Linked DNA regions of Homo sapiens. The protein of the gene in region 3 purifies or fractionates together with the protein of the main gene of each other region. This does not show direct contact. Each region holds a gene or a part of one and is shown on either strand. Other genes may lie near its edges.

The links.
Region 1: the proteins of VPS52 (region 3) and ZDHHC11 purify together in Homo sapiens (co-immunoprecipitation; one large-scale study listed by IntAct). This does not show direct contact.
Region 2: the proteins of VPS52 (region 3) and EIPR1 purify together in Homo sapiens (affinity purification with mass spectrometry; 4 studies listed by BioGRID and IntAct, with this or other methods). This does not show direct contact.
Region 4: the proteins of VPS52 (region 3) and CIAO2A purify together in Homo sapiens (co-immunoprecipitation; one large-scale study listed by IntAct). This does not show direct contact.
Region 5: the proteins of VPS52 (region 3) and TBC1D15 purify together in Homo sapiens (co-immunoprecipitation; one large-scale study listed by IntAct). This does not show direct contact.
Region 6: the proteins of VPS52 (region 3) and ARMC6 purify together in Homo sapiens (co-immunoprecipitation; one large-scale study listed by IntAct). This does not show direct contact.
Region 7: the proteins of VPS52 (region 3) and VRK1 fractionate together in Homo sapiens (co-fractionation; one large-scale study listed by BioGRID). This does not show direct contact.

What each region holds. Positions count from the first base shown.
Region 1 is NC_000005.10:833,021-837,486, reverse strand, and holds part of ZDHHC11 (palmitoyltransferase ZDHHC11), read left to right. Parts: exon of another isoform or gene 1-6; coding exon 7-122; intron 123-3,679; coding exon 3,680-3,714; intron 3,715-4,466. UniProt on the Homo sapiens protein: Endoplasmic reticulum-localized palmitoyltransferase that could catalyze the addition of palmitate onto various protein substrates and be involved in a variety of cellular processes.
Region 2 is NC_000002.12:3,370,353-3,374,818, forward strand, and holds part of EIPR1 (EARP and GARP complex-interacting protein 1), read right to left. Parts: intron 1-4,466. UniProt on the Homo sapiens protein: Acts as a component of endosomal retrieval machinery that is involved in protein transport from early endosomes to either recycling endosomes or the trans-Golgi network.
Region 3 is NC_000006.12:33,252,020-33,255,534, reverse strand, and holds part of VPS52 (vacuolar protein sorting-associated protein 52 homolog), read left to right. Parts: intron 1-644; exon of another isoform or gene 645-837; intron 838-3,515. UniProt on the Homo sapiens protein: Acts as a component of the GARP complex that is involved in retrograde transport from early and late endosomes to the trans-Golgi network (TGN).
Region 4 is NC_000015.10:64,083,366-64,087,831, reverse strand, and holds part of CIAO2A (cytosolic iron-sulfur assembly component 2A), read left to right. Parts: intron 1-4,466. UniProt on the Homo sapiens protein: Component of the cytosolic iron-sulfur protein assembly (CIA) complex, a multiprotein complex that mediates the incorporation of iron-sulfur cluster into extramitochondrial Fe/S proteins.
Region 5 is NC_000012.12:71,894,640-71,899,105, forward strand, and holds part of TBC1D15 (TBC1 domain family member 15), read left to right. Parts: intron 1-46; coding exon 47-244; intron 245-1,307; coding exon 1,308-1,436; intron 1,437-2,037; coding exon 2,038-2,141; intron 2,142-3,207; coding exon 3,208-3,302; intron 3,303-4,466. UniProt on the Homo sapiens protein: Acts as a GTPase activating protein for RAB7A. Does not act on RAB4, RAB5 or RAB6.
Region 6 is NC_000019.10:19,046,595-19,051,060, forward strand, and holds part of ARMC6 (armadillo repeat-containing protein 6), read left to right. Parts: intron 1-4,466.
Region 7 is NC_000014.9:96,859,137-96,863,602, forward strand, and holds part of VRK1 (serine/threonine-protein kinase VRK1), read left to right. Parts: intron 1-1,420; coding exon 1,421-1,599; intron 1,600-4,466. UniProt on the Homo sapiens protein: Serine/threonine kinase involved in the regulation of key cellular processes including the cell cycle, nuclear condensation, transcription regulation, and DNA damage response.

The DNA.
Region 1 (4,466 bases), on a different chromosome or scaffold from region 3:
TTCCAGAGGCCAAGAAGATGACCACCTTTGAGTATCTCATTAATAACCGCAAAGAAGAGAGTTCAAAACATCAAGCAGTGAGGAAAGATCCATACGTGCAAATGGACAAAGGAGTTCTCCAGGTACCACCTGTCTCTCTGCTCCATTTCTCCAGGCCTGGGACAATGTCTAAGGTCACTCGGTGGTTGGGACCTCTCAGCCATGCTCCTTTACTTCAGGGCCGATGCAGCCCATGGACTCTGCTGTGTGTGTGTCTGTGTGTGAGGCTCTGTGCATGGGTGTGTCTATGTGTCTTTGTGAACATAAACACCAGTCATGCACCACGGACTTCCTAGTGCAAAGATAGGAAAGGAACTGAGTCTCCTGGACATTTCTATACTGCACGATACATCTTCCAAAGTTGAAATGTGCTTTTTGCATCTTTTTTTTTGAGACAGAGTCTCGCTCTGTTGCCCAGGGTGGAGTGAAGTGGTGAAATCTCAGCTCATTGTAGCCTCCACCTCCTGGGTTCAAACAGTTTGCCTACCTCAGCCTCCCAAGTAGCTGGGATCACAGATGTATGCCACTACGCCCGACTAATTTTTGTATTTTTAGTAGAGATGTGGTTTTAACACGCCAGGCTGGTCTCAAACTTCTGGCCTCAGGTGATCCGCCCGCCTTGGCCTCCGAAAGTGCTGGGATTACAAGCATGAGTCACTGTACCTGGCCTGAAACATGATTTTTAACTTAAGGAAGTTAGTTCCCTTTCCGGTTAAGTGACATGAATTATTATAACTAACTCAAGAAGACATAGAAAGTCTAAATAGACATAGAACAGCCAAGAGACTAAACTACTAATTTAAAATCTCCCAGTGAAGAAAAATCCCAGGCCCTGTAGTCTTCATGCATGAATTCCAGCAAAGATTTAAAGAAAAAATACAATACAACCTACACACAGACTCTTTCAGAAAACAGAGAAGGAAGCAACACTTCCCAACTCATTCAGCAATGCCACTATCAACCTGACACCAAACCAGATATTCATAAGCCAGTACATTCAGGAAACACAGGCAGAGATCACTGATAAGACCTTGGGAAACCAAATCGAGCAGCACGGGGCAGGAATGTGCACTGTGGCCAAGTGATATCACTCCAGGGGTAAGCAGTGGCTTAAGGCCTAGGAATCAATTACTACAGCTCAGCACGTTAGTCCAATAGAGAACGGTAACCACGCAATCATGCCAATCAATGCAGAAAAGGGTTTGTTAACAGCAAGTTCCCATTCATGATTTTTAACAAATCTCAGTGACCTAGGAATGATAGGAAAGCACCCTGTGTACCTGACGTGACATTTACTGGTGAAAGGCTTGTGACCCTCTCTTGGAGGCTGGGCACAGGTGATGACGCCCTTTCCTCCTACTTCTGATATCACAGTCACATTCTGGCCAGCCCAGCATAGCAGGGAAAATGAAGGCACAGAGAATACAAAATAAAACTGTGTTTATTTGCAGACAATGAAACCTAAAAAGTATGTTTTAAGACCTAGTTAAGATAATTAAATCACTTAACAAGGATGTGGGGCACATATTAAAATACACGCTCGCACATCTCTATCCACCAGCAATGAAAAATCCGGGTTATATTTTTAAAACTTCCTTTCATAGTCTAATAAAAAAAGAATAAATTTGACAAACCTTATGCAAATATGTACACTGAAAGCTACACACCATGACTGAGAGAAGTCAGAGACGCTCTATTAAGTGAAAAGGTGTACAGCATTCATAGATTGGAAAAAAATACTATTAAAAGGGCAATTTTCCCCAAAACTTATCTACAGATTTACCACAATCCCTGCTGAACCCCAGCAGGCTTCTGTTTTAGCAGAAATGACAAGGTGGTCCTAAAATGTATATGCAAATTCAAAAGACCTAGGCTACTGTACTAGCCAAATGATTTTGAGAAAAAATAAAATTGGAGAACTTACACAACCAGACTTTAAATGTTACTATAAAGCTGTAGCACTAAAGACAGGTGGCGCTGACAGAGAGAGAGACATAAAGCTACAGTAATAAAAACAGTGTGGCACCGACAGAGACAGATATAGAGAAATGGACCAGAAGAAAGGTCCAAAGTTAAAGCTTTCATTTATGGTCAATTGACTTTAAATAATGGTACTAAAATCATTAAATAGGGAGAAATTATAGTTCAACAAGTGGTACTAGAACAATTGGATATCCACATGGAAAAGAAAAAAGAATGATTGAGTTCTTCATACCTGTACAAAGATTACCCAGGATCACTTCATTCGCCACGGAAGAATTAGCCCCAAATCCATCTGACACCTAAACTTAAAAGCTGAACATAGAACACTTCTAGAAACAAGCATAGAATGAAATCTCTGTGATCTTTAGTGAGACAAAGCTTGTCTTTGATCTGACACCAAAATCACTGCCTATTAAAGAAAAAAATCATAGTTTGGACTTTACCAAAATTGAAAATATTTGCTCTTCAAAAGTCACCATTAAGAAAATAAAAATACAGGCACACATGAGAGATACTGCAGGTTTGGTTTTAGAAAGCCACAATAAAGTAAACATGTCAGTAAAACAAGTCACATGAATTTCTGGTTTCCCAGTGCTTATAAAAGTTACGTTTACATGACGTGTGCAACAGCATTATGTCTAAAAACTATGTGTCTGAATTAAAAGTGCTTTATTGCTAAAAGCTGCTTACACAGACAATTGAAGTGAGCACACACTGCGGGGAAAATGGCGCCGACATACTTGCTTGACCAGGGTCACCACAAACCCTCAATTTGTGAAAAAACACAGTATCTGTGAAGTGCAGTAAAGCAATGCACAATAAAGCCAGGTGTTCATTCCTGTGCAAGCCACAGGCAAACAAAATATTTTCAAGTCTTAGACTGATGTCCAGAATACACAAAGACACAAAGAGCTTTCAAAGTGCAATTGTAAAAAAACAACAAACAAAAACATAAACAAACAGAAAACTCAGTTTTTCAAATGGGCAAGAGGGCTGGACACAATGGGAAGCACCTATAATCTCAGTGCTTTGGGAGGCCAAGCAAGAGGATTGCTTGAGGCCAGGAGTTCAAGACCAGCCTGAGCATCTCTACAAAAATAAATAAAAATACATACATACATATAAAAAATGGGCAAAAGATTTGAACAAACTCCTTACCAAGGTAGATGTAGATGTATAGATATATGGATGCCACATAAGCACATGGAAAAAAATGCTCAACATCATTCTACATCAGGCAGCTGCAAATAAAAACCACAATCAGATACTACCACACACCCAGGAGAATGCTTGTCATCAACAAGACAGACACCACCGAGGGTTGGTGAAGTTGTAGAGAAATTGCAAGTCTCCTGCGTTTTTTTGCTAGTGGGAGTTAAATGAGGGTGTAAAGTGCCACCACACTGGAAAGCAGTTTGGCATTTCTTTAAAAGATAAATGTCTAATACATGACCAGAATCCCACTCCCAGTTTCTCACCAGAGAGAAATGAAAACACGTGCACACGTAAGTGGTTCTGAGATCTGAACTCAGGACCCAAGAGAACTCCAGGTACCATTCCTCAAAACCCAGGAATAATAGACGTCACTTTTATGTAAGAATCAGCTGCATGTCAACAACTTCTTTTTTCATGTGACGAATTTTCTTTTGCCCCACAGCAAGGAGCTGGCGCCCTGGGCTCATCTGCACAGGGGTAAGTTGCAAGCTTCCTGCAGTAGCTTGGTCCTTCTGAAGAATAGCTGTATTCTTTTCTTAACTCAAATGACTTTGGAAAATAATTCACCTATGATGAGACATTTTGAAATCATGGGATGATGCAGTAGAAGATAAAATAGTTTTGTTTAATGTTGTTAAATTATACCAAATTATCTATCTCGATGTGCTTGTCTTACTTGCAGAAACTACATTCTTCACTCCCTTCTTCATAACTAACATCTAAACTAACACACAAGAGTAAGATCCGCTTATTTATTTCTACATCTCTCCATGAACATGTGGGTAGTTGTGAGTCTGAATGTATTTCTTATGATCTCTAATAGTGTTTCATAGACATTGTAAGCTCTGAGAGTCCAACCCATTCCTGAGTCAAGGTGCTAAGTAAATGGGAGCACTGGGGGTGCCTTGACCCGGAGCCCCACCCAACAGGGCCAGGGCTGGCTTCACAAACAGGGTTTCAAGAAGCGTCTTGGAGCTAGTGCTGTGCAGTGCGGTTCGTTTTATTTTGGAAGCTGAGAGTCAAAGGGCACGCGCATTTTCAGTCTTCACAGACTCTTTCTGATGACTTCTCAAAAGGGTGGAGCAGTTCACACTTCATTCAACGCTGTCGCTCTTCTCACTATGAGATACTAACAGTATGCTTAGTTTTATTCAAAGAAAATATATAATGTTTTAATATGCATTTCCTTACTACAATTACGACAACATTTTTTCATGTTTTGACCATTT
Region 2 (4,466 bases), on a different chromosome or scaffold from region 3:
AGTCCCTCACCAGCAACGGAACAAAGCTGGACGGAGAATGACTTTGACGAGTTGAGAGAAGAAGGCTTCAGACGATCAAACTACTCCGAGCTACAGGAGGAAATTCAAACCAAAGGCAAAGAAGTTGAAAACTTTGAAAAAAATTTAGACGAATGTATAACTAGAATAACCAATACAGAGAAGTGCTTAAAGGAGCTGATGGAGCTGAAAGCCAAGGCTCGAGAACTATGTGAAGAATGCAGAAGCCTCAGGAGCCGATGCGATCAACTGGAAGAAAGGGTATCAGTGATGGAAGATGAAATGAATGAAATGAAGCGAGAAGGGAAGTTTAGAGAAAAAAGAATAAAAAGAAATGAACAAAGCCTCCAAGAAATATGGGACTATGTGAAAAGACCAAATCTGCACCTGATTGGTGTACCTGAAAGTGATGGGGAGAATGGAACCAAGTTGGAAAACACTCTGCAGGATATTATCCAGGAGAACTTCCCCAATCTAGCAAGGCAAGCCAACATTCAGATTCAGGAAATACAGAGAATGCCACAAAGATACTCCTCGAGAAGAGCAACTCCAAGACACATAATTGTCAGATTCACCAAAGTTGAAATGAAGGAAAAAATGTTAAGCGCAGCCAGAGAGAAAGGTCGGGTTACCCACAAAGGGAAGCCCATCAGACTAACAGCGGATCTCTCGGCAGAAACTCTACAAGCCAGGAGAGAGTAGGGGCCAATATTCAACATTCTTAAAGAAAATAATTTTCAACCCAGAATTTCATATCCAGCCAAATTAAGCTTCATAAGTGAAGGAGAAATAAAATACTTTACAGACAAGCAAATGCTGAGAGGTTTTGCCACCACCAGGCCTGCCCTAAAAGAGCTCCTGAAGGAAGCACTAAACATGGAAAGGCATAACCGTACCAGCCGCTGCAAACTCATGCCAAAATGTAAAGACCATCGACATTAGGAAGAAACTGCATCAACTAACAAGCAAAATAACCAGCTAACAGCATGACAGGATCAAATTCACACATAATATTAACCTTAAATGTAAATGCACTAAATGCTCCAATTAAAAGACACAGACTGGCAAATTGGATAAAGAGTCAAGACCCATCAGTGTGCTGTATTCAGGAAGCCCATCTCACGTGCAGAGACACACATAGGCTCAAAATAAAAGGATGGAGGAAGATCTACCAAGCAAATGGAAAACAAAAAAAGGCAGGGGTTGCAATCCTAGTCTCTGATAAAACACACTTTAAACCAACAAAGATCAAAAGAGACAAAGAAGCCCATTACTTAAGGGTAAAGGGATCAATTCAACAACAAGAGCTAACTATCCTAAATATATATGCACCCAATACAGGAGCACCCAGATTCATAAAGTAAGTCCTGAGTGACCTACAAAGAGACTTAGACTCCCACACAATAATAATGGGAGACTTTAACACCCCACTGTCAACATTAGACAGATCAACGACACAGAAAGTTAAAAAGGATACCCAGGAATTGAACTCAGCTCTGCACCAAGCGGACCTAATAGATATCTACAGAACTCCCCACCCCAAATCAACAGAATATACATTTTTTTCAGCACCACGCCACACCTATTCCAAAATTGACCACATAGTTGGAAGTAAAGCTCTCCTCAGCAAATGTAAAAGAACAGAAATTATAACAAACTATCTCTCAGACAACAGTGCAATCAAACTAGAACTCAGGATTAAGAAACTCATTCAAAACCGCTCAACTACATGGAAACTGAACAACCTGCTCCTGAATGACTACTGGGTACATAATGAAATGAAGGCAGAAATAAAGATGTTCTTTGAAACCAATGAGAACAAAGACACAACATACCAGAATCTCTGGGACACATTCAAAGCAGTGTGTAGAGGGAAATTTATAGCACTAAATGCCCACAAGAGAAAGCAGGAAAGATCCAAAATTGACACCTAACATCACAATTAAAAGAACTAGAAAAGCAAGAGCAAACACATTCAAAAGCTAGCAGAAGGCAAGAAATAACTAAAATCAGAGCAGAACTGAAGGAAATAGAGACACAAAAAACCCTTCAAAAAATTAATGAATCCAGGAGCTGGTTTTTTGAAAGGATCAACAAAATTGATAGACCGCTAGCAAGACTAATAAAGAAAAAAAGAGAAGAATCAAATAGACGCAATAAAAAATGACGAAGGGGATATCACCACCAATCCCACAGAAATACAAACTACCATCAGAGAATACTACCAACACCTCTACGCAAATAAACTAGAAAATCTAGAAGAAATGGATAAATTCCTCAACACATACACTCTCCCAAGACTAAACCAGGAAGAAGTTGAATCTCTGAATAGACCAATAATAGGATCTGAAATTGTGGCAATAATCAATAGCTTACCAACCAAAAAGAGTCCAGGACCAGATGGATTCACAGCCGAATTCTACCAGAGGTATAAGGAGGAACTGGTACCATTCCTTCTGAAACTATTCCAATCAATAGAAAAAGAGGGAATCCTCCCTAACTCATTTTATTAGGCCAGCATCATCCTGATACCAAAGCCGGGCAGAGACACAACCAAAAAAGAGAATTTTAGACCAATATCCTTGATGAACATTGATGCAAAAATCCTCAATAAAATACTGGCAAACTGAATCCAGCAGCACATCAAAAAGCTTATCCACCATGATCAAGCGGGCTTCATCCCTGGGATACAAGGCTGGTTCAATCTACGCAAATCAATAAATGTAATCCAGCATATAAACAGAACCAAAGACAAAAACCATATGATTATCTCAATAGATGCAGAAAAGGCCTTTGACAAAATTCAACAACGCTTCATGCTAAAAACTCTCAATAAATTAGGTATTGATGGGAAGTATCTCAAAATAATAAGAGCTATCTATGACAAACCCACAGCCAATATCATACTGAATGGGCAAAAACTGGAAGCATTCCCTTTGAAAACTGGCACAAGACAGGGATGCCCTCTCTCACCACTCCTATTCAACATAGTGTTGGAAGTTCTGGCCAGGGCAATTAGGCAGAAGGAAATAAAGGCTATTCGATTAGGAAAAGAGGAAGTCAAATTGTCCCTGTTTGCAGACGACATGATTGTATATCTAGAAAACCCCATTGTCTCAGCCCAAAATCTCCTTAAGCTGATAAGCAACTTCAGCAAAGTCTCAGGATACAAAATCAATGTACAAAAATCACAAGCATTCTTATACACCAATAACAGACAAACAGAGAGCCAAATCATAAGTGAACTCCCATTCACAATTGCTTCAAAGAGAATAAAATACCTAGGAATCCAACTTGCAAGGCACATGAAGGACCTCTTCAAGGAGAACTACAAACCACTGCTCAATGAAATAGAAGAGAATACAAACAAATGGAAGAACATTCCATGCTCATGGGTAGGAAGAATCAATATCGTGAAAATGGCCATACTGCCCAAGGTAATTTATAGATTCAATGCCATCCCCATCAAGCTACCAATGACTTTCTTCACAGAATTAGAAAAAACTACTTTAAAGTTCATATGGAACCAAAAAAGAGCCCTCATCGCCAAGTCAATCCTAAGCCAAAAGAACAAAGCTGGAGGCATCACGCTACCTGACTTCAAACTATACTACAAGGCTACAGTAACCAAAACAGCATGTTACTGGTACCAAAACAGAGATACAGATCAATGGAACAGAACAGAGCCCTCAGAAATAATGCCGCATATCTACAACTATCTGATCTTTGACAAACCTGACAAAAACAAGCAATGGGGAAAGGATTCCCTATTTAATAAATGGTGCTGGGAAAACTGGCTAGCCATATGTAGAAAGCTGAAACTGGATCCCTTCCTTACACCTTATACAAAAATTAATTCAAGATGGAATAAAGACTTAAACGTTAGACCTAAAACCATAAGAACCCTAGAAGAAAACCTAGGCATTACCATTCAGGACATAGGCATGGGCAAGGACTTCATGTCTAAAACACCAAAAGCAATGCCAACAAAAGCCAAAATTGACAAATGGGATCTCATTAAACTAAAGAGCTTCTGTACAGCAAAAGAAACTACCAACAGAGTGAACAGGCAACCTACAAAATGGGAGAAAATTTTCACAACCTGCTCATCTGACAAAGGGCTAATATCCAGAATCTACAATGAACTCAAACAAATTTACAAGAAAAAAACAAAAAACCCCATCAAAAAGTGGGCAAAGGATATGAGCAGACACTTCTCAAAAGAAGACATTTATGCAGCCAAAAGACACATGAAAAAATGCTCATCATCACTGGCCATCAGAGAAATGCAAATCAAAACCACAATGAGATACCATCTCACACCAGTTAGAATGGCAATCATTAAAAAGTCAGGAAACAACAGGTGCTGGAGAGGATGTGGAGAAATAGGAACACTTTTACACTGTTGGTGGGACTGTAAACTAGTTCAACCATTGTGGAAGTCAGTG
Region 3 (3,515 bases):
GATTACAGGTGTTAGCCACCATGCCCGGCTAAGACCCCATTTCTTTAAAAAAAAAAAAAAAAAAAAAAAAAAGCCAGGCGTAGTGGCATGCATTTGTAGTTCTAGCTGCTTGGGAGGCTGAGGCGGGATCATTGCAGGAGATTAAGGCACCCACAAAGATGCACTTAAACCAGTTGTTTCTGCTGAGAGCAGCTGGGATTTGTCACTGGATTTGCCAGGTATAGAGACTCGCCAGCTGCCATCAATGCTTCTGGTCCTTTTTGGTCAGCTGCTGCTTCATACTACGTAGGAAAGATTGTTAAAGCCCAGTGCACTGTTTCCTCTGGTCACTCCTCTGCTATCAAGGTGTTCTCTTTTGCGTTATAGAAAGCTTAAAGTTCATCTAAGTCCAGACCAGTACTCCTATAGGAATATAATGCATGCCACAAATGTGAGCCACTTAAATAATTTTAAATTTTCTAGAAGCTACATTAAAAAGTAAGGAGAAACAGATGAAATAATTTTTTAAACCACTACATCCAAAATATTATTATTTCAACATATAATCAATAAAAAATAGTACTGAGGCCAGCACGGTGGCTCACACCTGTAATCCCAGCACAGGCCAAGGCAGGGAGGATCGCTTGAGCCCAGGAGTTTGAGACCAGCCTGGACAACATGGTGAAACCCCATCTCTACAAAAAATAAAAAAAAAATGAGTGGGACATGTTGGCACATGCCTGTTAGTCCCAGCTACTCAGGAGGCTGAGGTGGGATAATCACTGAGCCAGGAAAGTTGAGGTTGTAGTGAGCTGTGATTGTGCCACTGCACTCCAGCGTGGGTGATGGAGCAAGACCCTGTTTCCGAAAAAAAAAAAGAAAAAAAAGATATACTTAAAATTTATTCTAAGATGAAGTCTTCAAAATCAGGTGTATATATCATGCTTACAACACATTATATAATTTATGGCTCCTGCCTAGCAGGGGTCATCACTGTTAGTTCAACTTTTCTTTGGCAAGTCTACTCCCTGTGCCCCACCGTACACTGCTACATTATTGTTTGTATATGTGTGTGTGAGACTGCATTTAGGCAACTGTAATAGGTTGAATTTGGTTATTTAATCTCTGTCCAAAATCACATCACAAAGATGCCTTGATTATAGAAAGATCCTTCCTTGCAGCATATTAGTTATTTGACACCCTCAGTGGATATAAGTGAATATTTTGAGGGAAGAATAGAAAAGATACAATTTTTATTTATTTATTTATTTATTTATTTACTGAGACAAGTTGCTGCTCTGTCGCCCAGGCTGGAGTGCAGTGACATGATCTTGGCTCACTACAACCTCTGCCTCCCGGTTCAAGTGATTCTTCTGCTTCAGTCTCCCTGAGTAGCTGGGGTTACAGGCATGCACCACCACACCTGGCTAATTTTAGTATTAATAATTTATTTTTAAATGGAATAATAATTTCACTTTCTTCTTACCAGATCTTTCTGTCTGGGTTGTTTGCTTTTATGAGTTTTTTTGTTTGAATCTCCCTTTTACATTAAACAAAAATTAACATTTTATTATGGGAAATTTCACTATGCTATTAGAAAAGCATAGTGAACCCCCAGGCATCATCAGTGATATTCGGTGTATAGCAGTTCACGGACAGTTTTGTTTCATCTATACCAACACCTATTGCTTATCCTCCTTCTGTGTCCCCCAGTTACTTTGAATTAAATCTTATACATATACAGATGAATATTATCACTTCATCTGTATCAGAATGTTATTTTTATTAAGAAAATTATTTTTGAGATAGGGCCTTGCTGTAGTGCCCAGGCTGGAGTGTAGTAGCATGATATAACTCCCTGCAGCCTCGAACTCCTGGGCTCAAGTGATCCTCCCACCTCAGCCTCCTAAGTAACTGGGACTACAGGTGTGTGCCACCACACCTGGTAACAGATGGTTTTAAAAACTACAATACATTATCACACTTAAAAAAATTATCTTATCTAAAATAACTATTCAGATTTTCCCAGTTATTTCATAAGTGATTTTTTTTTTTTTTTTTTTGAGACACAGTTTCACTCTTGTTGCCTCCAGGCTGGAGTGCAATGGCCCGATCTTGGCACACTCCAACATCTGCCTCCCGGGTTCAAGCAATTCTCCTGCCTCAGTCTCCTGAGTAGCTGGGATTATAGACACCCACCACCACGCCCAGCTAATTTTTGTATTTTTAGTAGAGACAGGATTTCACCATGTTGGCCAGGCTGGTCTCAAACTCCTGACCTCAGGTGATCTACCCGCCTCAGCCTCCCAAAATGCTGGGATTACAGGCATGAGCCACTGTGCCTGGCCTTCATAAATGATTTTTATGGTTCAAATCAGGATCCATATAAAGTCCATATATGTGTCTTTTTTTAGTCTATAGATTTCCCTTCCATCTCCTCTGCAATTTATTTTTGGAAGAAACTGAGTTATTGAGTCATTTGTCATCTAGAATGATGTACAGTTTAGATTTTGCTGACTGCATTCCATGGTGTGGCCAAACTTCCTCTGTCTGGTGTATTTCTCATAAGTGTGTAATTAGATGGAAAGGCTTGGTCAGATTTAAATTAGTTTTTTTTTTTCTACAGGGATATTTGAGAGGTAGTGGTATGTATTTCCATCAGGAAGCACATAATGTCTTCTTGGCTCTCTTTGTGATGTTAGTAGCCATCAATTTCAGTGCCTAGATACATTAATTAGATTTCTGTATCTCCTACTATCTCAAAATTTTCCATCTTCTGTCTGTGCTACATTCTGAGTCCTTTCTTCAGTTATAAATTCTAATTCATTGTATAATTCTTGTTAATCTGTTGACTTTCTAAAACTGGCTTTTCATATCTAAAAAAATTTCCTTTTTTCAAGTCTGTTCATTCCTCATAGTTCTTACTAATTGGTCATTTTTACATCCTTTTTTTTTTTTTTTTTTTTTGAGACGGAGTCTTGCTCTGTCATCCAGGCTGGAGTGCAGTGGCATGATCTCTGCTCACTGCAACCTCCGCCTCCCAAGTTCAAGTGATTCTCTTGCCTCAGTCTCCCGAGTAGCTGGGATTATAGGCATCCACCATCATGCCCAGCTAATTTTTGTATTTTTAGTAGAGATGGGGTTTCATCATGTTGGCCAGGCTGGTCTTGAACTCCTGACCTCAGGTGATCTGCCCACCTCAGCCTCCCAAAGTGCTGGGATTACAGGCGTGAGCCACTGTGCCCGGCCTATCCTTAACTTTAGACATTGCACACAGTACAACTGCTATCCGTATCGGATAGTTCTTAAGGTCAGCAGCTATTGCTTATTGTGTCTGCTGACTCTCTTGGTAGCTGCCCTTCTTTTGTGTCTAGTGATCTTTGAGTTCATTGTTTGATCTTAACCAGGGGAACTGTATGGGCCAAAATTAGGATTGAGGATATTTTTCTCCATAGAGGATTTTCCTTAACTTTTGCAGCAGCTGAAAGATGCCATTCAGATGGATCTACATTAGTCATGATGCCAGAATTGGGCAA
Region 4 (4,466 bases), on a different chromosome or scaffold from region 3:
GGTAATAGTGGTGGTGGGAGCTGGGCAGATGGGGGAAAGGGTGGGAGGGAGACTTTATACCTTTTTATGTTTTTACATTTTCAAACCATGGGACTATCTCACCTATTAAAAAGCAACAAGTTTATAAAAAAGATTGAAAAGGTCGCTATTTCGTTATTATTTCCACTATTGTGATTTCTGTCTTTTCTCACTGGTTGACCTGGGTTCCCTCTGCTGGTGGTTTCCACCATATAGGCCACATCTTGAGGGACTGGAGGTCTGTGAATCCATAGGTATTATTGTGGTTATTAAAATCCCATTGGTGACCGGGCGTGGTGGCTCACACCTGTAATCCCAGCACTTTGGGAGGCCAAGGTGGGTAGATCACTTGAGGTCAGGAGTTTGAGACAAGCCTGACCAACATGGTGAAACCCCATCTCCACTAAAAAAAATACAAAATTAGGCCGGGCGCGGTGGCTTACGCCTGTAATCCCAGCACTTTAGGTGGCCGAGGCGGGCAGATCACGAGGTCAGGAGATGGAGACCATCCTGGGTAACATGGTGAAACCCTGTCTCTACTAAAACTATAAAAAATTAGCCAGGCATGGTGACGGGTGCCTGTAGTCCCAGCTACTCAGGAGGCTGAGGCAGGAGAATGGCGTGAACCCGGGAAGCGGAGTTTGCAGTGAGCCGAGATTGCACCACTGCACTCCAGCCTGGGCATCAGAGCGAGACTCTTATCTCCCAAAAAAAAAAAAAAAAAAAAAAGCAAAATTAGCAAGGCATGGTGGCACACACCTGTAATCCCAGCTACTTGAGAGGCTGAGGCAGGAGAATTACTTGAACCTGGGAGGCAGAGGTTGCAGTGAGCTGAGATCATGCCATTGCACACCAACCTGGGCAACAAGAGCAAAAACTTCATCTCAAAAAAAAAAAATTCCCATTGGCATGGCGGCTCACACCTGTAATCCCAGCACTTTGGGAGGCCAAGGCAGTGGATCACTTGAGGTCAGAAGTTCAAGACCAGCCTGGCCAACATGGTGAAACCCCATCTCTACTAAAAATACAAAAATTAGCTGGGCATGGTGGCACGCACCTGTAATCCCGGCTACTCGGGAGGCTGAGGCAGGAGAATCGCTTGAACATGGGAGGTGGAGGTTGCAGTGAGCTGAGATTGCGCCACTGCACTCCAGCCTAAGCAACAGAGTAAGACTCTGTCTCAAAAAAAAAAAAAAAAATCCCATTGCTAGAAAAAGCATTACTGAATGCTGAATGCATGGTTATTTTTGGTCATTGGACAATTTGTGAACGAACAGATACTGAAAGTACTGCTGTGGGTGTTGTGGAGGGGGTGTCTTAAAATATTTTGACATATAAGAAAGAGTTCTTAAATGGAGAGTTCAAGAACCTATAGCAAATTTATTTATTTATTTATTTTTTGAGCTGGAGTTTAACTCTTGTCACCCAGGCTGGAGCGCAATGGTGCAATCTTGGCTTACTGCAACCTCCGCCTGCCAGGTTCAAGCGATTCTCTTGCCTCAGCCTCCCAAGTAGCTGCAATTACAGGCGCCCGCCACCATGCCTGGCTAATTTTTTTTGTATTTTTAGTAGAGATGGGGTTTCACTATGTTGGCCAGGCTGGTCTCGAACTTCCAATATCAGGTGATCTGCCCACCTCGGCCTCCCAAAGTGCTGGGATTACAGGTGTGAGCCACCACTCCCAGCCAGCAAATTCATTTTTAAAATTAACATTTATTTAAATTATATGAGTAACATGTTTATTGGCAGTAATTTTGATACCCCACAAAAACATAAAGAAAAAAACCAGCTATTATGAAAGAATGTCACTGGGTGCAGTGGCTCACTCTTGTAATCCCAGCACTTTGGGAGGCCGAGGCGGGCAGATCATGAGGTCAGGAGTTTGAGACCAGCCTGGCCAACGTAGTGAAACCCTGTCTCTACCAAAAATGCAAAAAATTAGCTGGGCGTGGTGGCGGGCGCCTGTAATCCCAGCTACGTGGGAGGCTGAGGCAGGAGAATCGCTTGAACCCGGGAGGCGGAGGTTGCAGTGAGCGAAGGTCACGCCACTGCACTCCAGCCCAGGCTACAGTGCGAGACTCCGTCTCAAAAAAAAAAAAGAATATATGCTCTGGGCTAAAATTCCAGGTCTATTGGCTGTACCGTATTGTGGGCTTCGGCAAGTTACTTAACCTTTCCAAGACCCAGTTTCCTTATCTGTAAAACAGGAATAATAAGGATATCTATAGAGTCGTAAGAGTTAAGTAATAGCATGAAATACATGAATTATTTTTCTCATTAAATATTTCTTTTTTTAAATTTTTTTTGTTGTTGAGACAGGGTCTCACTCTGTCACCCAGGCTGGAATGCAATGACACGATCTCGGCTCACTGCAGGCAGCCTCCACCTCCCGGGCTCAAGTGATCCTCCCACCTCAGTCTCCTGAAAAGTTAGAACTTCAGGCAGGTGCCACTATGCCTGGCTAGTTTTGCCATGTTGCCCAGGCTGGTCTCAAATTCCTGGGCTCATGCCTCAGCCTCCCCAAGTGCTGGGATTACAGGCATGAGCCACCATACCTGGCCATCATTAAATATTCTTTAATTATATAGTTATAGGTTACATGCTAATCATATTGGTACATCAGAAGTTTTGTAACCATTTGGACTACTTCTAGCCTTTTGCAATTATAAATAATACTGTGATGAGCAACTTTATTTTATTTTATTTTATTTTATTTTATTTTATTTTATTTTTTGAGACAGAGTCTCACTTTATTGGCCAGGCTGGAGTGTAGTGGCCACTGGAGCTTCCACCTCCCAGGTTCAAGTGATTCTCCGCTTCAGCCTCCCGAGTAGCTAGGATTACAGGCATCCTCCACCAAGCCCAGCTAATTTTTGTATTTTTAGTAGAGACGGGGTTTCACCATGTTGGCCAGGCTGGTCTCGAACTTGTGACCTCAAGTGATCTGCCCTCTTTGGCCTACCAAAGTGCTGGGATTACAGGTGTGAGCCACCGCGCCTGACCGAACAACTTTATATATAAATATTTTTATTTATTTATTTTTTGAGACGGAGTTTCACTCTTGTTGCCCAGGCTGGAGTGCAATGGCATGATCTTGGTTCACCACAACCTCCACCTCCCAGGTTCAAGCGATTCTCCTGCCTCAGCCTCCCAAGCAGCTGGGATTACAGACATGCACCACCACACCTGGCTAATTTTGTATTTTTAATAGAGATGTGGTTTCTCTATGTTGGTCAGGCTGGTCTCTAACTCCCAACCTCAGGTGATCCGCCTGCCTTGGCCTCCCAAAGTGCTGGAATTAGAGGGGTGAGCCTCCGTGCCTGGCCTTATATAAATATTTTTATATATCTCATTATTGCATCAGGATAAATTCCTATACGTGGAATAATTGGGTTAGATTATGTAAGTATTTTGAAGCCTCATGGTATATATTGGTAAATCCCTATCTGGAAGTTTATACTGTTTGACGCAGGAGTTAAGGAACTAATTTTATAGAAGAAAATATTCGCCAGACGTGGTGGCCCACACCTGTAATTGTAACACTTTGGGAGGCCGAGGCGAGAGGATCACTGGAGCCTAGGAGTTTGAAACCAGCAATCTCTTAAAAAAGAAAAAAAACATGAAAAAGCTTGAATAAGTTCAAATTGCATCATGATTGCAGTTATAGAAAAATGTGTACGTGGACAAATATCAGGAGAGTGCATGAAATAAAAACTGTTCTGTAAGGGTGCTAACATTAGATTATAGTTGATATTTCAGATCTGTACACTTCCTGTAGAAAGTTTTGTCTTAGCCCTTTCGTTATGCATTTCAGCTAAGACCATTGGCTTTTTATTTTTTATTTTTATTTTATTTTATTTTATTTTTTTTTGAGACAGAGTCTTGCTCTGTTGCCCAGGTTGGAAAGCAGTGGTGCTGTCTTGGCTTACTGCAACCTCTGCCTCCTGGGTTCAAGCGATTCTCGTGCCTCGGCCTCCAAGTAGCTGGGATCATAGGCGCGTGCCACCATGCCCAACTAATTTTTTGTATTTTCAATAGAGACGGGGTTTCTCCATGTTACCCAGGCTAGTCTCAAACTCCTAGCCTCAAGTGATCCGCCCACCTCGGCCTCCCAAAGTGCTGGGATTACAAGTGTGAGCTGCCACACCCGGCCTATTGGTTTTTTAGAGAATTGTATAATAGTGTATCATAGTAGTTTTGTTCAGTCAACACAGCTGGAAAACTTGAGAGAAGCCTTCGTCTGTCTGATGTGTTAACAGATATTCCTCCAGAGCAGGTAGTCCTAGCCTGGAAAGGTGCCTGAGTAAGAGTATCACCTACTCAATGTTACCTTGGTAAGTGATTGACAAGGAAGACTCCAAGGGAACAAGAGGGTAAGGCAGGGAAACAAGTTGATAATCATTTGTGGTGACTTATTCCAGATAAGAATGGCTGAAGGCAGCTGTGGT
Region 5 (4,466 bases), on a different chromosome or scaffold from region 3:
CTTTATTTGAGTTAATAATGCTAATATTTTTCTTCCTACTGCATAGAAAATTAAAAAGGACCCTTATACGGCAACTATGATAGGATTTTCCAAAGTCACAAACTACATTTTTGACAGTTTGAGAGGCAGCGATCCCTCTACACATCAACGACCACCTTCAGAAATGGCAGATTTTCTTAGTGATGCTATTCCAGGTCTAAAGATAAATCAACAAGAAGAACCAGGATTTGAAGTCATCACAAGAGTGAGTAAAGATTAGTATTAATATAGCTCTTATATTTTAACAGGAGAACATGTACTATAGAAATAGAAACTTAATTTTGGTGATATCTGCTTCTTTCCATAATCTGTTCTTAACAACTTTTTGCTAGTATATCTGACAATGAGTGCTTGTCCTGCCACTAAGTTCTTCATTTGTTCTCTATCTTATACTCTTTCTTGATTAATGTTGGATCTCTCTTCTTTGATTACCTTTTGATAATGAAGTTTGTTTCATTGGGTGCATAGCAGAGTGAGGAGCGAACCTTTCCTATTACCTCTTAGTTCTGTTCCTTACTTGCATGTTTTCTCATAGGCATCAGAGACAGCTAGTCAGGATACTACTTTTAGGGCTTTTATTCTCATGTAATACTTCCTTTTTTAAGTAAGATGGGTTTTGGCCTGAATTATGGCAGATCTTTATATGTGCTCAGTAAGATTTAAATTTGCTACAATTCTAGGCTTGTACATAGTTAGAAAACTATAAATATCTAAATTTTAGTGCTTAATTAAAGGGTTTATCTTGCAAATACTATTTTAAAATTACCAACATCTGTTAATTGAATAAAACACTATAGAAAATGCCGAGTGAAGCTAGTGGGTCATGAATCAATTCTGAGAAATACAAACTTTAGAAGAAAAGCTAATTTTTAGAATATGATTAATGGAATAATTATATATTCTCTCTTTTTAAATAATACAGCATATCATTTGGTTTGAAGGTTTCTTACAGAATTTACATGTTGAATGTTCTATACTTACATAATTGAACCCAAAATAGTAAAGAGCTTTCTTTTAATAACAAATATTTTTAGTCTGTGGGGTTTTCTGTTTCTGAATTTATAACCCAGTTTGTTGTGTGTTTAGTAGAAGGGAAATACATGTAATGCTAACTATTATAGTTAAACTAAACATGGGAAAATAAGGAACAATCTTAAAAGTATTAGAAGTCATGTCTGAAAAACAGTATTTTAAATTTAGTTTCTATATGCCTTTATTTCATTTCACTGGTTAAATATGTACTTATTATTGCTTAATCTTATTTTTAGATTGATTTGGGGGAACGCCCTGTTGTTCAAAGGAGAGAACCGGTATCACTGGAAGAATGGACTAAGAACATTGATTCTGAAGGAAGAATTTTAAATGTAGATAATATGAAGCAGATGATATTTAGAGGGGTAATTTAAACACTCTAATATGGCTTGTCTTATAAACTCCTAGTATTTAGGGGTTTTGTTGTTATCGTTACTGTTTTGGTGTGTTTTTTTTTGTTGTTGGTTTTTTTTTTTTTTGGTGGGGGAAGTAGGGAGGAATGAACTCTGTTATTTCTTTGATGAATGATGCCTTAAAATTCCTGGATTGAGTAGGACAGAGTGAGGTGCTTATGATGTTCCTGGGGGTTGGGTAGACCCTTAACTCTGGGGGAAGAATTCTTCCGTACTTGAAGTTCTGTGGGTTTTGTGAAGGAGGCCTGCATTCCAGTGGCATTTGCCTTATTCTGTAAGATTGGGCTTAGACTCACCAGTCACACTGTCTGTCTGCTGTAGTCTACTGTATTCTGTAGTCTACTGTATTCTGTGCACTGTTTAAACTTTCTGGCAGCTGCTTACATCTTTTGGATCTAGAAGTAAAAAACAAGATGATATTCACTGAATTGAACTATTTACATATATGAAACTACCTCTTAAAGATTAGTTTTCCTTTTTATATGCAAGTTTTGTGAACTTACAGTATTACATTCTTTTTCATTCATGTATTTAATATGTATGCTTTCTTCAGGGACTTAGTCATGCATTGAGAAAGCAAGCATGGAAATTTCTTCTGGGTTATTTTCCCTGGGACAGTACCAAGGAGGAAAGAACCCAATTACAAAAGCAAAAAACGTAAGTAATGGTCTTTCGTACATTTATCAAAGAGATTCAAGTAACCCACTCATACAAATTAGTATAGGGTTTCTAGATGAGGATTTGGAATAGACTGGGGAATGGAAAAACAACTTCATTTTTATGTTTTAACTTAAAAATTATGAGCATTCTAATTATTTTAAATCAGAAACTTACTAGAAGCACCTTTTTGCATTTATTTTTGTGAATATGTAAAAAGAAGATAAACATATTCCCTTATATAAGCCTTGTACAAGCCTTTTGCATACTTGAAAGATAACTACGTAGACATACACTTAAAAACATCTCTCATTCATCTTGATTCATTTTTATAATTCATTATGAAATTATAAATGGCTCATAAGAAATATATTTGCTATTTAGATTAATTACCTTTAAGTTACTTTTCTGATACTCTTATAATGGATCCTTCATTCTTTTTGGAAGAGTATTTCTATTTTAAGTTATTCCTCAGACTTGAAAGGAAACACAGACCAACTTTCCAGGTACAACTTCTTGTTCTCAGTTGTCAGTCTAGCCTTTGATTTAAAGCTATTTTCAGTCATTATGTGCATATTTAAGTTATCTGACAGTCTTCTCTTTTCAGCTTGTTTACCAGTTCTTCTAAGACATTTTTACATTAACTAGTTTCTGCAATAAACTGCTTGGAAATGGAACTATAATGTCACATTTTTTAAAAAAAAAGTCACTTAGATTTGTATTTACAATTATTTGGAAACTTTAGTGGTTAAAATATTTCATGACTAGAATACTTTTAGACATGATTTTAAGGATGAGATAAATGTTTTTGTAAAAGAATACCTAAAATTATTCTAGTAGTTGAACAAAGTTTATCACATAAACTTTGTGATATTTATCGGTTATTTTTTTCTTTTGTTTTCACTTATTTATCATAACTTTAAACGTTTTGCTATTGTTTTTATAAACTTACATTCCACTAGCATCATAAATGCTTTGATATACTGTTTATAGAAAAACCCAATTAAACAGTGTTAAAAATAAAGTTTTCAAATAGCTTTCTTTGATGTCAAATTGTTTTCTATAGTGATGAATACTTCAGAATGAAACTGCAGTGGAAATCCATCAGCCAGGAACAAGAGAAAAGAAATTCGAGGTTAAGAGATTATAGAAGTCTTATCGGTAATTTTTTCTTAACAACTTTGGAAATGCAAGGGGGGATTACATTGAAATCTTGATAAGAGTAAAGAAGTGAAGATACATGGTAATAGCACTAGGGCTCAAAAGAGAAATCAGAATAGGAAAGTACATTGCAGTGTGTGTTTAATGTTCTTTGTTGTTCCTCTTCCAATAGGCATATTAATTCAGTAAGTTTATTTATAAGTGTTGATATATTTAATTTTCAGTTCCAAAGTATGAATTTCTAAAAAGATTGTTTACCTTTATTTGCTTTTTGAATTAATTTCATTTTTAAAAAACTTTATTTTCTTTTTTATTATGAAAGTCTGTTTATTGTAGAAAAATTAACTGTAGATGAGCAAAAAGAGGTAAATAGAAATTATTTTTGTTTCTGTCACCCAGAGATAATTATGGTTAATAGGTATTGGTTTATATCCCTTCAGAACTTCTTTAAATATACATATATTTCATTTTTAAAATTAAATAAATGACTCCAGATATAAAATTTAGTATTTGAAAATAGAATATTTACCTGGGGATAACTATTCTCTAAAACACAGAGATGCTTGATAGAATTTTATCATTAAAGCATTAGTTGCATTTCATAATCTCCATTTACAAATGAGAAACTGAAGCATGGAGAACATAAATGACCTGTCCAAGGTCACACATGTCCCAGTTTAATGTTCTTATTACACTGTCTCTGTAATTTTAGGATAGCATTGGATAGTACTGGAACTTAGTTTTGAAATTCCTATATTGTATCTGGATTTGTATATCCGTGGTTTCATAAAGAATGATAGAGGGATTTGTTACTGCTGTTAACACCCTCCCATGAAAGAAATAATTTTTTAAATTATATTTAGAAAGCCCAACGTAACAGGCTGATTTGGTACCGTTTGTGGACATGAAAACAAGATCTTTTTGGCAGTGATACTTTTGATCCAAAAAGAATTTATTTTTCTGAAATGTAAATTATACCAGAATAAACTTTGTCCTTTCTCTGATTAAGGCGAAAGTTTGGGAGTCCTGAGTTTTGGAGTTTAATCTAAAGTTTCTAACTGAAGCTTCTTGATATTTTCAGTTTCAGTAGGAAAAACAATAAGGGATTCTGGTGTTTTACTCCTGCTTGAGCATAAAATATTCGAACTGGAAGGGAAGTTAGAG
Region 6 (4,466 bases), on a different chromosome or scaffold from region 3:
TGCAATTTTCCTGCCTCAGCCTCCCGAGTAGCTGGGATTACAGGCGTGCACCACCACGCCCAGCGGATTTTTGTATTTTTAGTAGAGATGGGATTTCACCACATTGGACAGGCTGGTCTTGAACTCCTGACCTCAAGTGATCTGCCTGCCTCGGCCTCCCAAAGTGTTGGGGTTATAGGCATGAGCCACTATGCCCAGCCTATTTTTTGTTTTGTAGAGATGGGATCTTGCTATATTGCCCAGGATGATCTTGAACACCTGCCCTCAAGTGACCCTCCCACTTTGCCCTGCCAACATGCCAGGATTACAGGTGTGAGCCAACATGCTCACCTGTTTTTTTTTTTTTTTCTTTTTCTATTTCTTTTTTTTTTTTTTTTGACACAAACTCTCACTCTGTCACCCATGCTAGAGTGCAATGGCAGGATCTCGGCTCATTGCAACCTCCACCTCCCAGGTTCAAGTGATGCTCCTGTCTCAGCCTCCTGAGTAGCTGGGATTACAGGTACCTGCCACCATGCCTGGCTAATTTTAAATTTTATTTTTCATTAAGGAAGAGTGGAAATACATTCTTAGCATAAAGGATTCAAGCAATACTCAAGCATTTATAGTAAAATCTGAAAGTCCCTGCCTTGTCCCTCCCACCAGACACTGGGGTTTGCATCTCAGCGGTCAGTTCGCAACTGAACCAACCCCCTTCTCAAATGCCCTGCAGCATAATTGACCTTTGTGCATCTTGGCTTAGATGTGTAAAAAATGCTTATCTGTTGAGGGAGAAAAAAATTCAACATTGTGATGGTCGTTGAAATTAATCTGTTTGTGTCATAAGATTTGTTGCAAACAGGCTTGTAGAAACAGAAGGAAAATAATGTCTGGAGACTGTCCAGGGAAAAACTGAGCCAGCCAGGCCACATTTATATGTGGGAAGTTGTAGAATGAAAGGCATTAGTCACAGAGACTGAATGACTCCAGGAGTCAATGGGTAAAGCCCCCCTCCATGAGCAAGGTGGTGAGCGCCACAGAAAATTGTCATAGGTAGAACACAGCTGGCTCTGCCACCTGCATTTTAGCAACCATCTGTCAATGAAAATACTCTATAAAATATTTCAAGAGATTTATTCGGAACCAAATATGAGTGACCAAAGGCCCATGACACAGCCTCGGGAGCTCCTGAGAACATGTGTCCAAGGTGGTCGGGCTACAGCTTGGTTTTATACGTTTTAGGGAGACATGAGATATCAATCAATACATGTGAGACGTACATTGGTGTGGTCTGGAAAAGTAGGGCAGCTGAAAGCCGGGGCTTCCAGGTCATAGACACATTTAAAGATTTTTCTGGCCAGGTGCTGTGGCTCACGTCTGTAATTTCAGCATTTTGGGAGGCTGAGGTGGTCGGATTGCATCGAGCTGAGGAGTTTGGGACCAGCCTGGCCAACATGGCAAAACCCATCTCTACAAAAAATACAAAAATTAGGCCACGTGTGGTGGCTCACACCTGTAATCCCAGCACTTTGGGAGCCCAGGCAGGTGGATCACCTGAGGTCAGGTGTTCGAGACCAGCCTGGCCAACATGATGAAACCCCGTCTCTACTAAAAATACAAAAATTAACCGGGCATGGTGGCAGGTGCCTGTAACTCCAGCTACTCAGGAGGCTGAGGTAGGAGAATTGCTTGAACCCGGGAGGCAGAGGTTGCAGTGAGCCAAGATTGCACCATTGCACTCCAGCCTTGGTAACAAGAGCGAAATTGCATCTCAAAAAAACAAAAAACAAAAAACAAAAATTAGCTGGGCATGGTAGTGGGTGCTTATAATCCCAGCTACTTGGGAGGCTAAGGCGGGAGAATCACTTGAATCCAGGAGGCGGAGGTTGCAGTAAGCCGAGATCATGCCACTGTACTCCAGCCTGGGCAACAGAATGAGACTCAGAAAAAAAAAAAAAAGATTTTCTGATTGAAAGAGTTATCTAAAGACCTAGAATCAATAGAAAGGAATATTTTGCTTAAGACGGGTTGTGGAGATCAAGGGTTTATCAAGGAAGCCTCCAGGTAGCAGGCTTCAGAGAAAATAGATTGTAAATATTTCTTATCAGACTTAAAAAGGTGCCAGACTCTTAGTTAATTCTCTCCTGAATCAGGGAAAAGACCTGGAAAGGGAATCTCTGTAGAATGTAGCTTTTCCCCACAAGAGATAGCTTTGCAGGGCCATTTCAAAATATGTCAGAGAAATATATTTTAGGGTAAAATACTTTGATTTCTTTCCATACTGTATTAGTTAGGCTGGAACTTGGTGTCTTATTGCTACAAAAAAGTCTTACGATGATCAGTTATGTCTGACTTCCAAAGGCAGGAAGATAAAATGAGACATATTTGACCGCCACTTCCCATCATGACCTGAAGTAGTTTTTCAGGTTACCTTTGGAATACCTTTGGCCAAGAGGAGGGGTCCTTAGTATGGATGAGGACTTAGATTTTTTTTTTTTTTTTTTTTTGAGACAGGGTCTCCCCAGCTAGAGTGCAGTGGTGTGATCTTAGCTCACTGAAACCTCTGCTTCCCGGGCTCAAGCAATTCTTCAGCCTCAGCCTCCCATGTAGCTGACTACATGGTGTGAGCCACCAACATCTGGCTAATTTTTGTATTTTTTTTAGAGACAGGGTTTTACCACGTTGCCCAGGCTGGTCTTGAACTCCTGAGCTCAAAGCGATACACCTGCCTTGGCCTCCCAAAGTGAAGAGATTACAGGCATGAGCCACCATGCCCGGCCAAGAATTTTATTTTTAGTTTACACATCCTTGCTAACTTAGTAATTCCTTGTGAAATCTTGGTAGTTCTAACTCCAATACTGTGCATCCTCAAAGGCATTTCTGTCAGGAGCTTTTCAAGTTTCTTACAGGGTTTCTGCTGAAGTGCTACACCGCTGTTTGTTATGTAAAATGTGCATAAAAACATTTACCATTGTAACCATTTTTAAATGTAGAGTTCAGTGTCATTAAGTACATTCATAATGTTGTGCAACCATCATGACTATCCATGACTTGCGATACTGAAACAAACTCCATGTTCCTCTTCCCCTCAGCCTCTAGCAACCATCATTCTACCTTCTGTTGCTGCAAATTTGACTACTCCAGGACCTCATATAAATGGAATCACAGGCTGGCCACCCTGGCTTATGCCTGTAATCCCAGCATTTTGGGAGGCTGAGGTGGGCAGATCACTTTGAGGTCAGGAGTTAGAGACCAGCCTGGCCAACATGGTGAAACCCTGTCTCCACTAAAAATACAAAAATTATCCGGGCGTGGTGGCACATGCCTGTAGTCCCAGCTGCTCAGGAGGCTGAAGCGGGAGGATTGTTTGAACCCAGGAGGTGGAGGTTGCAGTGAGCTGAGATGGTACCACTCCACTCCAGCCTGGGTGACAGAGGAAGACTCCATCTAAAAAAAAAAATTTTTTTTAAATAAATGGAATCACAGTATTTGTCTTTTGGTGACTGTCTTATTTCACTTAGCGTAATGTCCTCAAGGTATATCCATAGCATACTATGTGCCTGAATTTCTTTGTTGTCATTGTAGTGTTTTTTTGTTTGTTTGTTTTTCTTTTTGGAGACAGAGTCTCTCTCTGTCGCCCAGGCTGGAGTGCAATGGCACGAGCTCAGCTCCCTGCAACCTCCAACCTCTTGGCTCTGATGAATCATGCTGCTATGAACATGGGTGTACAGGTATCTCTTTGAGACTGTGCTTTCAGTTCTCTTGAGTGTATCCCCAGAAGTGGAACTGATGGGTCACACAGTAATTCTGTTTGATTTTCTTTTTTGAGATGAATGCTCCGTATGTTGCCCAGGCGAGTCTTGAACTCCTGGGATCAAGTGATCCTCCTGCCTTGGCCTCCCAAAATGCTGGGATTACAGGCATGAGCCACCACGCCTGGCTTCTCTGTAGGTTTGAATTGCATTTTTCCTAATGATTAGTGACATTGAGCATCTTTTCATGTATTAGTGGCCATTTGTATGTATTCTTTGTAGTAATGTCTATTCTAGTCATGCACACTGGTGTTAACTTAATTTTTGTTGTTTTTTGTTTTTCAGTTCTAATCTCATTTTAGCAAAAACTTACCTTTTTAAATATCCTGTTGCATTGTAACATATACTTAGGTCCACAAATCTGAGCTCAGTGAGGATTATCCCATAGGCTTCTTTGTTTTTCGTGTCAGTCAATGCCAAATCAAAGCCCTTTGGGCTGGTGGTTTCTGTAGAACCACCCTGATTCAGTCTGAGGGCAAATAATCTCCTACACTTCAGGCTCACAGATTCATCTTTGGCTCATGCTAAGACATGTCCCGAGGTCATGTAGTTGAATGGCAGCTAAACTTATCTGAGTTGTTTAAAGTATTTTCTCCCCAGTGGCTTAGAGTTGAATTTGGATAAATCTGCTCTCTGTACAGTGTAACCACATTTGGCAGGTGCTCAATAAATGTT
Region 7 (4,466 bases), on a different chromosome or scaffold from region 3:
ATGCTATTTTAGGTATTTTTTGATAGTTTATTTTCCAATTGCTTTTTGCTGGTATATAGAAATAAGATAGATTTTTATATATTTACCTTGCATTTTACGACCTTGTTAAATGTATCTACTAGTTCTAGTAGTTCTTTGTAGATTCTGTAGGATTTTCCACATGTAGTATTATGTTGTTTGTGAATAAAGACTGGTTTACATCTTCTGTTCCACTCTTTATGCCTTCTATTTATTTTCCTATCGTACTAGCTAAAAGTACACATAACTATTCTGTTATACTGAAGGGATATGGCAAAAGTGGACATTTTTCTCTCCCAGGGGAGCATTTTCAATGTTTTATCATACATGGTGATATTTGTTTTAGGTTTTTTGTACATCTCCTTTATCAGATGAAGAAATTGGAAGTTAGGGATTGTTGTCCGTTTTTTTCTTGGTATATTCCAAGTATTTAGGAATAGTGCCTGGCACATAGGAGGTGCTTAATAAATATTTGAGTTAATGAATGTGTGTATATATGCACACGCTTGTGTGTGTGTGTGTAGAACTGATAAGATCTCTTGAAGGACTGGTGTGAGAAGAAATGATTCAAGGGTGACTAACTCAGATTTTGGCTTGAGGAGCTAGAAGGATGAAAATCTCAGTAACTGAGACAGAGAAAACCTCAAGTTTTAGGGATAGGTCAAGAGTTTAGACGTGGGTTTGTTGGAATTAATGGTGATATTTACACATCCAAGGACCAGTATATGAAATGATGGATATACAAGTCTGGAGGTCGGGGGAAAGGTCTGTGTGTGAGTCATTAGCTCAAAAATGAATTTTTAATATTGAGAAGTGTTGATCTTGACTAGTAGGATTTCTTTTTTATGGTGTGGTTCTGTCTAAGTGTACAGTACACTTTTATCATTTGGAAGCTGATTTTTCTCTTTTATAGGAAAGCCAGATCTTATTTCTTTCTTCTTTCTTTGGCCTCTTTTTGGTGTGTTTTATTTCTCATTTACACGAAGAATATAGCTATCTGCTATAGAGCTAATGGCTTTGATGGCAAAAACATATTGGCTATGATATTCATTGTATTTAAGGACATTTTACTTTCTAATCTTTATTCTAGATCCCTTTGTATTTTTTTATAACTTTAATACTATAATAGTTATTTTTATGAGTATTTACATTTTAAGTTGTCTTGTTTCTCACAATTACAAAAAGTGTGTTTTACATTGTATCTCAAAATACTTTTTAAATTTCAGTTATCTGACAATTCCTGAGTTCAAAAGCATACTTTTCATTGAAGTGATTGAAAAAAATAGGTATCTTAACAAGATGTGTATTTGCATTCTAACTTTACTATAACCATGAATTATTTTTTTTAGAGGTTAGAGAGAAATATATTGAAAGTTATAAAATGATTGTGTTATTCTTTTAGGTGAAATTGCCAAATACATGGAAACAGTGAAATTACTAGACTACACTGAAAAACCTCTTTATGAAAATTTACGTGACATTCTTTTGCAAGGACTAAAAGCTATAGGAAGTAAGGATGATGGCAAATTGGACCTCAGTGTTGTGGAGAATGGAGGTTTGAAAGCAAAAACAATAACAAAGGTGAATTTTGTTATTAAATTATTCTTTGGTCTTCTTGTGTTTATAATTGCAATAAATACTAAAAGAAAGTATAGCAGTAGTTCAATGAAGAACAATAACAGATTGCATGGCAATTAAGGCAAACATTTTTTGTAATACAGAAAATGTGTAGAGGGTTGTAGAAAAATAAATATTTATATATTTCTTATGTTTAGTAGCAAGTTACTAAATTCCTGAACTGATTTTAACTTGGAATACTGATATCTGACAGGGAAATTTTGATGGTGCACTGAATTCATAATTTATATGTTCTTTTCTCCCAAGTCACCACTTAGGGTTCATCTTGTCTTGGTTGTTTCTTATTTGTGGATATGGTCAGAGTATTTACCAGTTGAAAACGGGCATTTGAAAAATTACCATTTGAAAATTTCCTTGTTTGTTGGTGTGGTGCATTTTACCATTTGAACATTATTTTGCTCTGTGAAGAAATATTATATAAAGCTATATATCAGCATATAAGGGGATTAATTGTTTGGAGAGAAATGTTAAATAATGAACTTTATGGTAGAAGTATTATACAAGCATGTAAAGAACTTCTGGCATCACTTTAGATTTTACAGGTATGCATTAACTTACTGATTTGCTATTGATTATTTTTGATAATTAACTTACTGATAAACTTACTGATTTCCCTTATAATCTGAAATTATTTAATACAATGTGTTAGCTATTTTTATATGAGGAAGGAAAACAACTTTTAGAAGAAAAATTTTTTTTACATTATTAACCATTTTTACTGTCATTAACTTTGCAAATTCTAATAGATTTATTTGGAAATCTCGTATTCCAAACTGAGAAAAAGCGTTAAAACAAATTTTTCTCTCTTTAAAATCAGACGCAGCACATTGAAAAGTTTTTATCTTTTCAATTAACAAAGGAGATAGGAATTTTGAAATTGGACCAAAAATTTAACTTTGCCAAATAGCAGGTCTCTGTAATTTCATCATAGAATCTGAAATTATATACATGCATCTACATATACTTTTTTTTCTTTGATAAGTTTTATCTTAATTGCATCTGCTCCAGTTTTGTGGTCAACAAGTGTGCTGAAAACTGTATCTGTTTGAAATGAAGAGGGTAAAATGGAAGCCTGAGTGGAATTTTTTAGTAAGGTATTATAGTAAACTTACTCTTTGCATACATGCATAAACAAGCAGCATGTTTCTTATTGCTCAGGATAGATTTCTCTGCGTTAATATTTATAGGTAGCTTGTATAGTGTTTTTCTCTAAAATTTTGGTGATTGAGAAGTAAAGATCTCTGCTGCTATGTGAGAACTTGTCCAGAGCAACCACCTCCCTCCGCCCAACCCCCATCCCCCTGTCCCCGCCCCTACCTTCCTTTGCAAATCCCTTTGTTGTTTGGACTTACATGCTGGAGAAAATGTAGTTTCTGCAGGTTGGCTGACTTTACAGCTGAGTAGGTCAGTCTGCTGCAGAGCTAACATCTGTGACCTTATAATTCTGTGGTGTCCTTGGATAGTTCAGAAGGCTGGAAATTTCCTGTTGGATCATCCCTGACATGTATAAAGCTTCATTTAGGGGAAAAAAATGAATACTAAGTTGAACAAGTTGAACTATTAGGAGATTTATTTCATTAGTTTACTACTTTTTGTACACTCATTGCTGACACAGGGTTATTCTTTGTATTAAAAAGAAATTAATAAAAGTTAAGGTTAGGTAAGATCATGAGCTGCTTGATAGCCATGTAACTGAAGTGAGTTATTAATTTTGTTAGCTTTTTTTTTTTTTGTAAAGTGAAAGAACTGGACCAGACCAGTTTTTTTTCAAGCTTTTCTTTTAAACTGCAGAACATTTTCTTCATATAATTTGTAAATGCTGTCACTGAAAACAGATAAAAGCAGAGCTCTGCTGGATGAGAAGTTGGGGGCTCCCTGCAATGAAAAGCTTTCTCCTTTGAGAAACTAGCTTGCTGCCTCTGTTTTTCAGCAAGATCTATAACCCAGATGTCTTTTTTTGCTCTGGATGTCAGGAGGCTCAAAACTAAATATGATGCTTAGTTCTAGAAACTGTTAATTTTAATAATTAGTACATTTGTTTCCTCTCTTTTCGTTTGTCATAATTTTTGAAAGTGTGAAGTATATTTTCTGTGTATATATCAGACTCAGATCTCTTTTGGAAAGGGGTAGGTTTAATCAGTTTAATATATGTTTGTATTTAGGTTCCTAAGAAATATTCTTTTTGGTAAAAACCTACAGGAATTGATGAACAGTGGAATGAAGCAAGGTTTCTTGTCTATGTTTTTGCAGCCATGCTTGATTATGGTGCAGTATATTTGGAAACTAGAGTGAAACATGAATTTACCCACTTGGAAATGTTTTCTGCTTAATAATCAAGGAGCTTTATTTAAAGCATAGAATTTTGGGATGACATAAGGCTGAAGGAGAACAGAGAGATCAAGTATACATCTGCCCTTAAAAAGTACAAAGTCAAATATTTTTATTGTTGATTAGAACTAAACATTTTCAGTTTTTAGAATCTGGCAGTACAGTGCAACAGTTATTGGATTCAGTGTATACTCATAAATTAACATTCAACAATTACATAAAAAGTCTAGTTTATGTACCTGATCTAGGCTAGGTCTCTAGGGCTACGGAGATCAATGACATGTGGTCCCATTCTTAAAGAATTCCTTCCTGTTCCATCTGGGTTAAGAACAGCTTAATTTACTGGAAAGAGCTCAGCAAGTTAAAAGGACATTAACACTTCCATGAACTATTTTAGGGTTTTAAGTTGCCTGCCTAAGTCAACAAAAAGGGTTGTTGACTGGAATCTCATCCCTGGAAAGTCGTTGAGTAAGGTCTAGATC